2 linked regions of the Homo sapiens genome follow. The protein of the gene in region 1 purifies or fractionates together with the protein of each later gene. This does not show direct contact. Each region holds a gene or a part of one and is shown on either strand. Other genes may lie near its edges.

Region 1 (5,351 bases):
ATAAAGGCAAACCTCTTTCAATAATGTCTGGCACATAAGTACTGTATAACTATTAACTACTACTATTATTTGGATAGGTTGAATGAAAGTGCGTTCTCGGAGTTACAAAACAGGGCCACTTCCCCAAGAACAGTCACACAAAGAGAATCATCTCAGACTTCCCTGAGCTAGTAGAACCCACCACAGGTCACTCTGATCTTGCCCCTGCCCCCGGACATCAGACAAGATCTCACCTCCCCCTCTTATTTTCCAAAGATGTTCTTCCATCCCATTCCAGTGTCACTTTTGCAATAGCTGTTAAGTCTTATCTTAGTCTGTATCTAACTGCAAGCCCTCCTACTGTAACCCGCTTTCATTTTCTCTTGTCCTGGTCTAGGTAGGAACAGAAAGAGCTGTCTTCAGACTTCTTCTCTGGGAGGTTGATGGGTTTTCCCCTTGGCTTTCGAAGAGGGAGGTCTGGCCTCAATAACTGGCAGTGCTGTCTTCCTGGGACTCGGGCTCCACCCCTTCACCATGGGCGTGCATGCTCACAGCTGGCACTCATTCCCTCACGGAAGCCTTCCCTGGGCTAAAGGCATCATCAAGAGGTAAGAAGTACAGCTTCACAGGTACCCAGAGCCTCTCAAATATAGGCATGATGGAATGAAACCTCCCCACCCCAGTCCCCAAAGTTGGTCATCAGAAGAGGGAGTGGCCGCCTGCCTCTAAACACTAAAAATCTAAGTTCCCTCTAGTCACCAACGCCCACCTGGCACGGAAAGGCCTTGTTTTGGTGCCTTTGACCCCATTTACACTCCAGCAACCTTTACCCCCACCTTTCTGGCCTTCCCCTGCACACCAGCCCTTCATTTCTGGGGGCTGTGGAGAGTCAGGAGACAGCTTGGTGGCCTCCTCCACTCCCTCCCAGACTTCAGGTCCCAGGAGATCCTCCAGTGACCTATTGTCCTGGCACCTGACCTTCTCCCTACCCCCTACCTTGCTTCCACAAGCTGGGAAGGGGACAGGAAATGCACAAATAATTATAGCCCAAGAGGGAAGGAGGGAGGGAGGGTTCCAGCCCACTGGCTCCAGGCAATAGCTACAGCCAGTGACCCGGAGAGCGGAGAGCCGGAGAGCCAGAGGGGTAGCGGAGGAGGACCCAGGCTCATGATAAGGAAGACCCTAGTAGAGAACAGCTCTACCAGGACTGACATGTGGACTCTCCTCTCAATTCTGATTGCAAAGAGGAGCCCCTCATCTTGGTAGGTCTCAGTTTTTTCAACTCAGCCTCACTGTAAATGGCAGTTGGGCAAGGTAGGGGGAAGGAGGGAGAGGGTGGTGGTTATTCCACTCAAAAGGACTTGCCAATAAGAAGTGAACTCTCGGCTAGGCGCAATGGCTCATGCTTGTAATCCCAGTGCTTTGGGAGGGCGAGGTGGGCAGATCACGAGGTCAAGCGATCAAGACCATCCTGGCCAATATGGTGAAACCCCATCTCTACTAAAAATACAAAAATTAGCTGGGCGTGGTGGCGCACACCTGTAGCCCCAGCTACTCAGGAAGCTGAGGCAGGAGAATCACTTGAACCTGGGAGGCAGAGGCTGTAGTGAGCCAAGATTGCTTCACTGCACTCCAGCCTGGTGACAGAGGAAGACTCTGGTTAAAAAAAAAAAAAAGAAAGAAAAGAAAAAAGAAATGAACTCTCCCGGCCAAGCGCAGTGGGTCACGCCTGTAATACCAGCACTTTGGGAGGCCAAGGCAGGTGGATTGCTTGGGCCTAGGAGTTCAAGACCTACCTAGGCAACATAGCGAAACCTGGGTGGACACACGCAGTGGAGACATAACTGAATCTCAAGCTAAGCTACTCTATTTAGTCTGGATGGTTGGGGATAGCTTCTCTGCTGATTTGGATAGTACAGCCATTATCTTGCCTCCCAAATCCCACCATTCTTTCCCCTCCCTGCTCTCTCCTTCATTCTTTCAGGTCCAGAGATGTTTCTCACTAGCAAAGGGCACTTTGGTGATCTCAGATTCTCCAAATGTCTCAGAATCCTTCCCTGAGCCCCCCAAAGGCAGGTACCAAGCAGTGTCCACATGATCACCTCACCCTAAGACCAAAACGCAGAATTAGCACAGTTCAGTAACTCACTAAAGGAGAATGTTGCCACGGTGATGCACCCAGAACTGTAACCAAGCTTACCTCACTCCAACCCATTGACCCGGCCCCCATACCTCCCACCTCCACCTGGAAAGAACACACAAGTACCTAACTCAATGCCGGCTCACTGAGGTGACAGATAAACAACAAATCCCTTTCCCCTTCCCCCCATGCCCAAACAGAGACATTTGGGCAGAACACACACACAGACACACACACGTTGCAGCTGTGTGAGCCACCCACGCACACTGCAGACAAGCTTCCTGACCCAGTGTCCACGGCAGCTGTACCACTGTACACCCCCAGAGCAAGCTGGGCCACCAGCAGCATGCCAAGCCATGATCTAGGCCCCCCTCTAGCTCTGGTACTGGCCCTGGCACCTGGGCAGGTGAAAGGTACTCACCCAGCGCAGCCCCTGGATGCAGCTCGGACGCTGGTGCTCCAGCAGCAGCTGGTAGGAGCAGCTTCGGGGCCGGTGCATCCTTCTCAACACCATGTTGAGTAGTGTCCCCTCCGGCACCACGTCAGGGAGGGCTCCCACCCGCGGTGCTCCCAGAGCTGGGCTATCCTCCACAGCCAGGCCCACCTGCCAGCAGCTCTCACCTGGCCAGCCCACCTGTGACACGGGGAGGAAAGTGGACAGCCATGGGACACGACTGGGGCGGCTGGGCCACAGTACAACTGCCCCAGGCAGAACTACTTCCTTAGAGTCCTCTGGACTGGTCAGGCGGAGGTGCTGCAACCCTGCCAGGAGCTGGGGGGAGGAACAGGAAGACCTTCACTGGGGCCTGCCGGTCTGGCGCACTTAGGGGTCTCCAGCTGGCTCTTGGAAAAGATCAGGCCCTTCTTAGTCCTCTTTGGAATTCTGTCCCATCTCACTGCCCATGCCCCTGCAGGGATCTCCACTACCTCCCAGTATGAAGCTATAGATTCACTAGGTCTCCCAGAAATGCAGCTTCGGCTTAAACCCTTCTCCTCTCCTCCTCAGCCCTGACTAACCCTCCCTCTCCCACCCAAACTCCCCACCGTGTCAGCTTCCTCTCCCGCCCTCTCCTGCTCCTCCTCAACCCTGACCCCACCTTACCCACCTTCATGTTTCTTTTCAAGCTCGCACAGCCGTGCAGGCTCTAGCAAAAGGCTGGGGGGTCCCCAGCGACCCCCATCAGCTTTGATAAGGGGATCCGGAGGGTGCCAGTGGGTAAGTCCAGGTACAGTGAACTGGGCCAGTGCCTAGCTGGACTGGCTGCCAGGGCAGCAGGATGCAGGGCTCGGTGGAGAGGCTCCTCTTGGGTGAGTAGAGGGGTGGGGGCGTGGTGGGGGGACGCCACCCAGCCACCGGCGACAGGGAGCCCCGAGCCTGCGCCTTCGTCTCAGACGAAGGAGCCAGCTGGCACCGGGCGCTGAAGCAAGGCTGCGCTGGCACCGGTCCGGGCGGGAGCTGTCACACCCCCTGCGCTGCCCGCCCCCTTCCCCTCCCCAGGACTGGCGGAGGGGGCGGGGTGGAGGCGCCCTGCCTTACGGTAGAGGAATGCGTAGGGGAAGGGGGCCGGCACTGGCAGGCTTTGGAGTCCGCACCCGGGGGTACCAGAGTGGACATCCGCCTGAGCCCAGAGTATCCCCAGGGGGCAGGAGCGGCCCCGAAGTGTGTGGAGGAGGCCGCAACGGCCGGGGTGTCAGGGATCCGGCGGTGAGTGGCTGCACTGGCCGCCACGTGGCCGGGAGGAGAAATGCAAACAAGGAAACCGGGGAGAGCGGGGAGGGGGTGAGTCACTGCGGCCTCACCCGGGAGGGAAATCCGGGCTGGGGCCGCTTCCCGGCTGGGGGTGTCTGCCTCCTGTTTCGGTTCAGGGTCTCCAGCCGCCCGGGGGAGGGAATAGGCGGCTTTCCCGCGGGGAATCCCGCTGCCTTGCCTCCCACAGTTCCGTTCCCAGACCCACGCCCCACTGCCCCCTGCCCCAGCACACACACACCGGGAGCAGTTGAGGAAACTGAGGCTGGAGAGGAAGGACTGCTCTCCAGAACGGGTAGGGGCCCTAAGAGGAGATTGGGGTTGTGGCAGAGCTTCCAGGGGAGCAGAAGGTGTTCGAGTACCACGCCCCCTACCGCGCGCTCCCTGGTGGCCGGGTAGGTTGAGGCGGAGACCGGGCATTCCAGCGCCCTGCTAGGCAGGCTTGCTACCGAGGCTCCACGCCTCCCTGGGCCTCAGTTTCCACCACTGTGCAAATGGCCCAGCGCGGGCCTCTTCGCCCCACTCCTGAGAGGGTGGAGAGACAGTGGCCGGGGACAGCGACCCGTAATTCAGGACGATAATGAGGGTTTGGAAGGAGGTGAACGCCCCACCCCCAGCTTTTTAGGACTTTTTGCCCCTTCTCTTCCCTTTTCCCTTTGCTGTTGAGCCAGCCCAGACTGGGAAGAAGTATCTCTAAAAAGCCTATACCCCAATTTTGGGATGCCAAGCCCGCATCCTCCACCATGATTATTTTCTTGAAAGTGAGGAGAAGACTGGGAAGAGGTAGCTCTAAGAAGCCTATACTCCCAATTTTGGGATGCCAAGCCCCCATCCTCCACCAATTATTATTTTCTTGAAAGTGGGGAGAGAAATTTTAATTGTGATTAAAATCCCATTTTTAATGTATACATGTATAAAAAATGTTTCCCAGAAGCTTACTAAAATGCAGGCTCCGTCCCCAGCAATTCATATTCAATCCTATTGGCATGAAATGGAAAATCTGTATTTGGAACAAACACCCCAGGTCATCTGCTGTGTCCACACATTAAGAAACGCTGGTGGAGTTTTAAATGCCTCTCCGGGGAAGGAGGAAAGCCTGAGAATGAATCTGACCTCAGACCCAAATCCATTCAACGGAGTTCTGGTAATTTGGAAGAAGGAAGAGCAACCTGGAAACTGACAGGAAAGGATGACAAGTTGGGAGTCACAGGTATGCATGGGGAAGAGTTAGGGGGATGGAGTCATGAGTTTCGGGTTGCTGGGGCCAGTGCCCTGGCCTAGAAGTTCTTGCAGGAAGGCTTCCTGAGACTGGCAGTTGGGTCACAAAGGGGTCCCCTATTTCCTATTCTTGCTGCCCTTACTCTGGGCAGGTGGAAGATGCTGGGGAGTGAGGCAGGACACTTGTATACATTTCAGCAGAGCTACAAAATCTAATCATGTGCGGGCACTCTTTCAAGTGCTTTCCATGTGTTTAATCCCTGCCAC
Region 2 (4,809 bases), on another chromosome or scaffold:
TTAAATATATGTAAGGTGATTAGAACAGCAACTGGAGTATAGTAGGGGCTCTGTGGGCATCGGCGGTTATCATGACCAAATTACCCACCTTCTTTTTTTTTTTTTTTTTTTTTTTTTGAGACGGAGTCTCGCTCTGTCGCCCAGGCTGGAGTACAGTAGTGTGATCTCGGCTCACTGCAACCTCCGCCTCCCTGGTTCAAGTGATTCTCCTAACTCAGCATCCCGAGTAGCTGGGACTGCAGGTGCCCACCACCACGCCCAGCTGATTTTTTTTTTTTTTTGAGACTAAACCCTCTACTACTTTAGTAGAGGGTTTCCCCATGTTGCCTAGGCTGGTCTCGAAACCCTGACCTCAGGTGATCCGCCTGCCTCGGCCTCCCAAAATGCTGGGTTAACAGGCGTGAGCCACCGCTCCCAGCCTAATTACCCGCCTCTTAGTCCCGGTCCTGCCAAACCCCCAGGCTGCCCCCAGTCCCCAGGCTCCTGGGAGTCGGCCAGGCACCCAGACAGAGGCAGGTCCAGCGCTGCTCTCTGGCGCCCCCTGCTGTGCAGTGAGCTGCCCCCGCGGGACTCTTGCCAAGGCCCCCCATCTGCCAGTCGCTTACCACCGCAGCGCCCCGCCGCGGGACCCAGCAGCGAGCAGTAAATCTCCTCCAGCCTCTCTACGTGTCCCTCCCGGCTCGGGCTGGCCTCGCTGGCCATCTGCTCCAAGGCGGCCACCACGGCGTGGAAATAGTGCTCCAGGGTGCGGCGAGGGCTGGCCTGTTGGGGAGGGGCGTCAGAGCCTGGGTCTTGGCCCAGCGCCCACGCACCCCAGCTCCTAAGCCAAGTCCGCAGGGCCCTGGCAGCCCAAGGTGACACCTCTCCGCTGCCCCTGGGGGCCCGGCAGGAGCTTCCCCCGAAGGCTTCTGGATCCCACATCCAGGGCCCTATGCCTGCCCTGCAAGTGGGGGTTCCCCTCTGCCCCTCACACGCTATTATGGGGAGACTACTGGTCTGCAATGTCTGTTACCCAGAGAGGCAGAGATAGCCACTGACGCCCACTTCCTGAAAGCGTCACCCAGCACTTGGATCAATGTTCTAGCCCCCACTAGATTGTGAATTCCAGGAATTCACAGGGAATTTTGTCTGTTTCATTCATAGCTGCATCTCCAGCACTTAGAATAGCTCACTGCACCAGGTGTTGTTCTAGGGGCTGGGATACAGCAGCAAACAAAAGAGATTGTGTGATCTGGGAAGCCCCCCCTGAGAAAGTGACTTTTTTTTTTTTTTTTTTGAGACGGAGTCTTGCTCTGTCACCCAGGCTGGAGTGCAGTGGTGTGACTTTGGCTCATTGCAACCTCTGCCTCCTGGGTTCAAGCGATTCTCCTGCCTCAGCCTCCCGAGTATCTGGGACTACAGGTGCGCACCACCACATCCAGCCAATTTTTGTATTTTTAGTAGAGACGGGGTTTCACCATGTTGGCCAGGACGGTCTCGATCTCCTGACCTCATGATCTGCCTGCCTTGGCCTCCCAAAGTGTTGGGATTACAGGCGTGAACCACCGCGCTTGGCCGAAAGTGACTTTTAGGTAAAGACTTGAAGTGAAAGAGTGAGCCATGCAGCCCAGCGCGGTGGCTCACGCTTGTAATCTCAGCACTTTGGAAGGCCGGGGTAGGTGGATCACGAGGTCAGGAGATGGAGACCACGGTGAAACCCCGTCTCTACTAAAAATAGAAAAAATTAGCTGGGTGTGGTGGCCGGCGCCTGTAGTCCCAGCTACTCAGAGAGGCTGAGGCAGGAGAATGGCGTGAACCCAGGAGGCGGAGCTTGCAGTGAGCCGAGATCACGCCACTGCACTCCAGCCTGGGCAACAGAGCAAGACTTCGTCTCAAAAAAAAAAAAAAAAAAAAAAGAGTGAGTCGTGCAGGTATCTAAGAGAACGTTCCAAGCATAGGGAGTAGCCAGCGCAAAGGCCCTGGGGTGCAAGTATGTTAGGCATGTGCATGTTGGGAGACAAATGAGGAGGCTTGTTTAGCTGGAGCAGAGGAAATGAGAGGGAAAGTTAGGAGACAGGCCAGAGAGGAAATGAAGAGAGATGGGAACAGGTCAAGGCCCTCAAGATGAGGTTCTTGTATTTTTATTTTTAGAGATGGGGTGTCTCTCTGTTACCCAGGCTAGAGTGCAGTGGTACAGTCACAGCTCACTGCAGCCTTGAACTTGGCTCAAGTGATCCTCTTGTCTTCCGAGTAGCTGGGACTGCAAACACATGTCACTGCGTCTGGTATTTTTTTTTTTTTATTACTTTTTGTAGAAATGGGGTCTTGCTATGTTGCCCAGGCTGGTCTCAAACCCCTGGCCTTAAGCAATCCTCCTGCCTCGGCCTCTCAAGTACCTGCAATTATAGGCATGAACCACCACACCAGGCTCTTATAGGTCATTGCAATCACTTTGGCTTTGACTCCGAGTGAGATGATGTAGTAGCTACTGTTGTGGTGACCCAGATTCCTGCTTTCGGGGCTGAGACACTCATTCACCCTGCTGCTAGGAATACTGGCATTATCTTATATCTTATTATTGGTTTTTTTTTTGGAAATGGAGTCTCTCTCTGTCACCCAGGCTGGAGTGCAGTGGCACAATCTTGGCTCACTGCAACCTCCACTTTCCGGGTTCAAGCTATTCTCCTGCCTCAGCCTCCAGAGTAGCTAGGATTACAGGTGCCCGCCACCACGGCCAGTTAGTTTTTGTATCTTTAGTAGAGACTGGATTTCGCCATGTTGGCCAGGCTGGTCTTGAACTCCTGACCTCAGGTGATACACCCGCCTCAGCCTCCCAAAGTGCTGGGGTTATAGGTGTGAGCCACTGCGCCCAGCCAAAATGTATTAATTTTTGATTTGGGGGAAAAGGTGATGCGAAACAGGAGAAGGAGGAAGAGCAGGGTGAATGACTGGTATGGGCATGCAGGGACGAGGGCTGGGACTGACAAGGGGCTGCAGGCAGGGCCATTACCTGCAGCTTCCTGTGCAGAGCGCCTGCGTGACAGGCCTCCCCCAGAGCCGCCTGCAGGGCGTGGGAGACCACGTGGCGCATGCAGGTCTCTGGTGTCTGCTGCGCCTGGGCCGCCTCGATCTCCAGTAGCAGAGCACTGCACACAGACGCAGACACCAGCTCAGGATCCACGAAGAGGAACACTCTGAGGGCAGAAGCAGAGGGGAGAGGTGGGATTGATAGTAACTAATGGGAGAGGGGCCACCGGATGGGCACCCTCAGAGCTGTGCAGCACCTCCAAGTAATTTAATTCTGCTAAAAAGAGGAGTCTCAGATTCAAAAGTCTCTGGGTGGGATGACAATAGGGAGTGGTGAGGACTGTGGCAAATAAGAGCATGCACAGCCCTTCTAGAGGGGCAGCTCTAATCCACTGTCCACAGAGGAAAGCAGGCCTAGTCCCATGTTTAGGAAAGTTCCAGCCTCAATCCTGCTCCCTCTCTCAGCATCCTGGCCCAGGGACCAGGTCACCCTCTAGGAGGGACCCTAAATCCTTCCTGCCAGAACTGGAGTTCTGAACTCTGAGTGAATCTCACCTTCTTTCATCACTCTTATCACACCAGAGAGCCAACCTCCCCTACTCCCTCCTCCTCACCCACTGTGTCTCCCCACCTCTCCCATGGGTGCCCTGGGCCTCCTTGCATCTTTCATGAACTCAGCACCTCACACCCCAAACTCAAGCTGTGCCTTTCAGGGCCAAGTTAGTGGAGGTGCCTGCAGAAGAGGGAGGTGCCGCTCCCAACTTCATCACCCCTCTCCCCAACACGAGCAGGGGACACTTCCTCAGTCTTATCTAAGAGGCTTGGCGTCCCCCATGGAAGCCCTCTGGCTTCATTGTGCACTTGCGCCTGAGCCCCTCCGCTATGGCTATTCTGGAGTCTCCTCTGGCTGCCTGGCTGGTATGATGCTGCATTATGGCCAAGGGCAGGATGGAGGTGGAATGACAGAGCCCCAGAGTGGCCCCGAGGCCATGTCCACCTTCTGCATGTGAGCAGGGTAGCTTCCAATCCAACCTGAGAAGAAAGACCTATCCTGTGTTCAGTGGTCTCCAGAAAACAATATGGCGCCAACCTTGAATGGCAAACGCACCCCACTGCTGGACAAATATCATGGCTGGGGAGGTCTGCTAGGGCTCTTCTTAATCCAGCCTCCTCTTTTGTCCTCCTGCCAGGGAGCAGTCACTAAAGCCACAACAGTTTTAGGAGGCTGAAGGTAGCAATTTTTCTGGGGCCACTCACCTCTCCTGGTAGGGATACAGCTCATTCGTCAAGTTCTGTTCGGCAATGACCATCCTTTGGTACAGTGTCCCTGCAAACCAGACCACTTTGGCCAAACAGCCCCCAAGTCTCTGACTCCCATTCTCCACCTTCCTACAGAAGGTGTGGAGGCTTTTGAGCTCCCCGGTATCCTGGAGAAAAAGGAAAGACCCTGGGCAATGTTGGAGGTGCAGCGTGGGAGACAAAGATGCCCAGTGACTCTTACCTGGGACAGCCATCTCCGTTTTCAGCCTTATCGCGCAGTCCAAGGCGACTGTGCAGTAGGGGGTGGGCAGGGTCAGTAACCTTGTGCAAAAGGCATAGATTCTCTGGTAGAGCTCTTCTGTGATTCCTGTGGCCTGGGTGAGAGGGAGGAGGGGGAGGTGAGAGGGAGGAGGTGGAGGTAAGAGGGAGGAGGGGGAGGTGAAGGGTCCCGGGGGAGTTTCCGGGGAGGGGCTTGGGAGAAGAGGTGGAAGGTCAGGCCTAACAGCCAGACCTGGGCTCACAGCTCTCTCCCAAACCCACACC

The links. Proteins that work in one complex are often made in the same cells at the same time.
Region 2: the proteins of RAPGEF3 (region 1) and PIK3R6 purify together in Homo sapiens (pull-down; one study listed by IntAct). This does not show direct contact.

What each region holds. Positions count from the first base shown.
Region 1 is NC_000012.12:47,755,326-47,760,676, forward strand, and holds the start of RAPGEF3 (rap guanine nucleotide exchange factor 3), read right to left. Parts: upstream 3,556-5,351; 5' UTR 3,428-3,555; coding exon of another isoform or gene 3,397-3,427; 5' UTR 3,232-3,396; coding exon 3,226-3,231; intron 3,137-3,225; exon of another isoform or gene 2,754-3,136; coding exon 2,541-2,753; intron 588-2,540; coding exon of another isoform or gene 524-587; exon of another isoform or gene 377-523; intron 1-376. Other genes in the region: SLC48A1 (heme transporter HRG1), read left to right, coding at 524-587, 4,891-5,076. UniProt on the Homo sapiens protein: Guanine nucleotide exchange factor (GEF) for RAP1A and RAP2A small GTPases that is activated by binding cAMP.
Region 2 is NC_000017.11:8,832,284-8,837,092, forward strand, and holds part of PIK3R6 (phosphoinositide 3-kinase regulatory subunit 6), read right to left. Parts: intron 4,641-4,809; coding exon 4,508-4,640; intron 4,434-4,507; exon of another isoform or gene 4,334-4,433; coding exon 4,264-4,333; intron 3,174-4,263; coding exon 2,990-3,173; intron 763-2,989; coding exon 606-762; intron 1-605. UniProt on the Homo sapiens protein: Regulatory subunit of the PI3K gamma complex. Acts as an adapter to drive activation of PIK3CG by beta-gamma G protein dimers.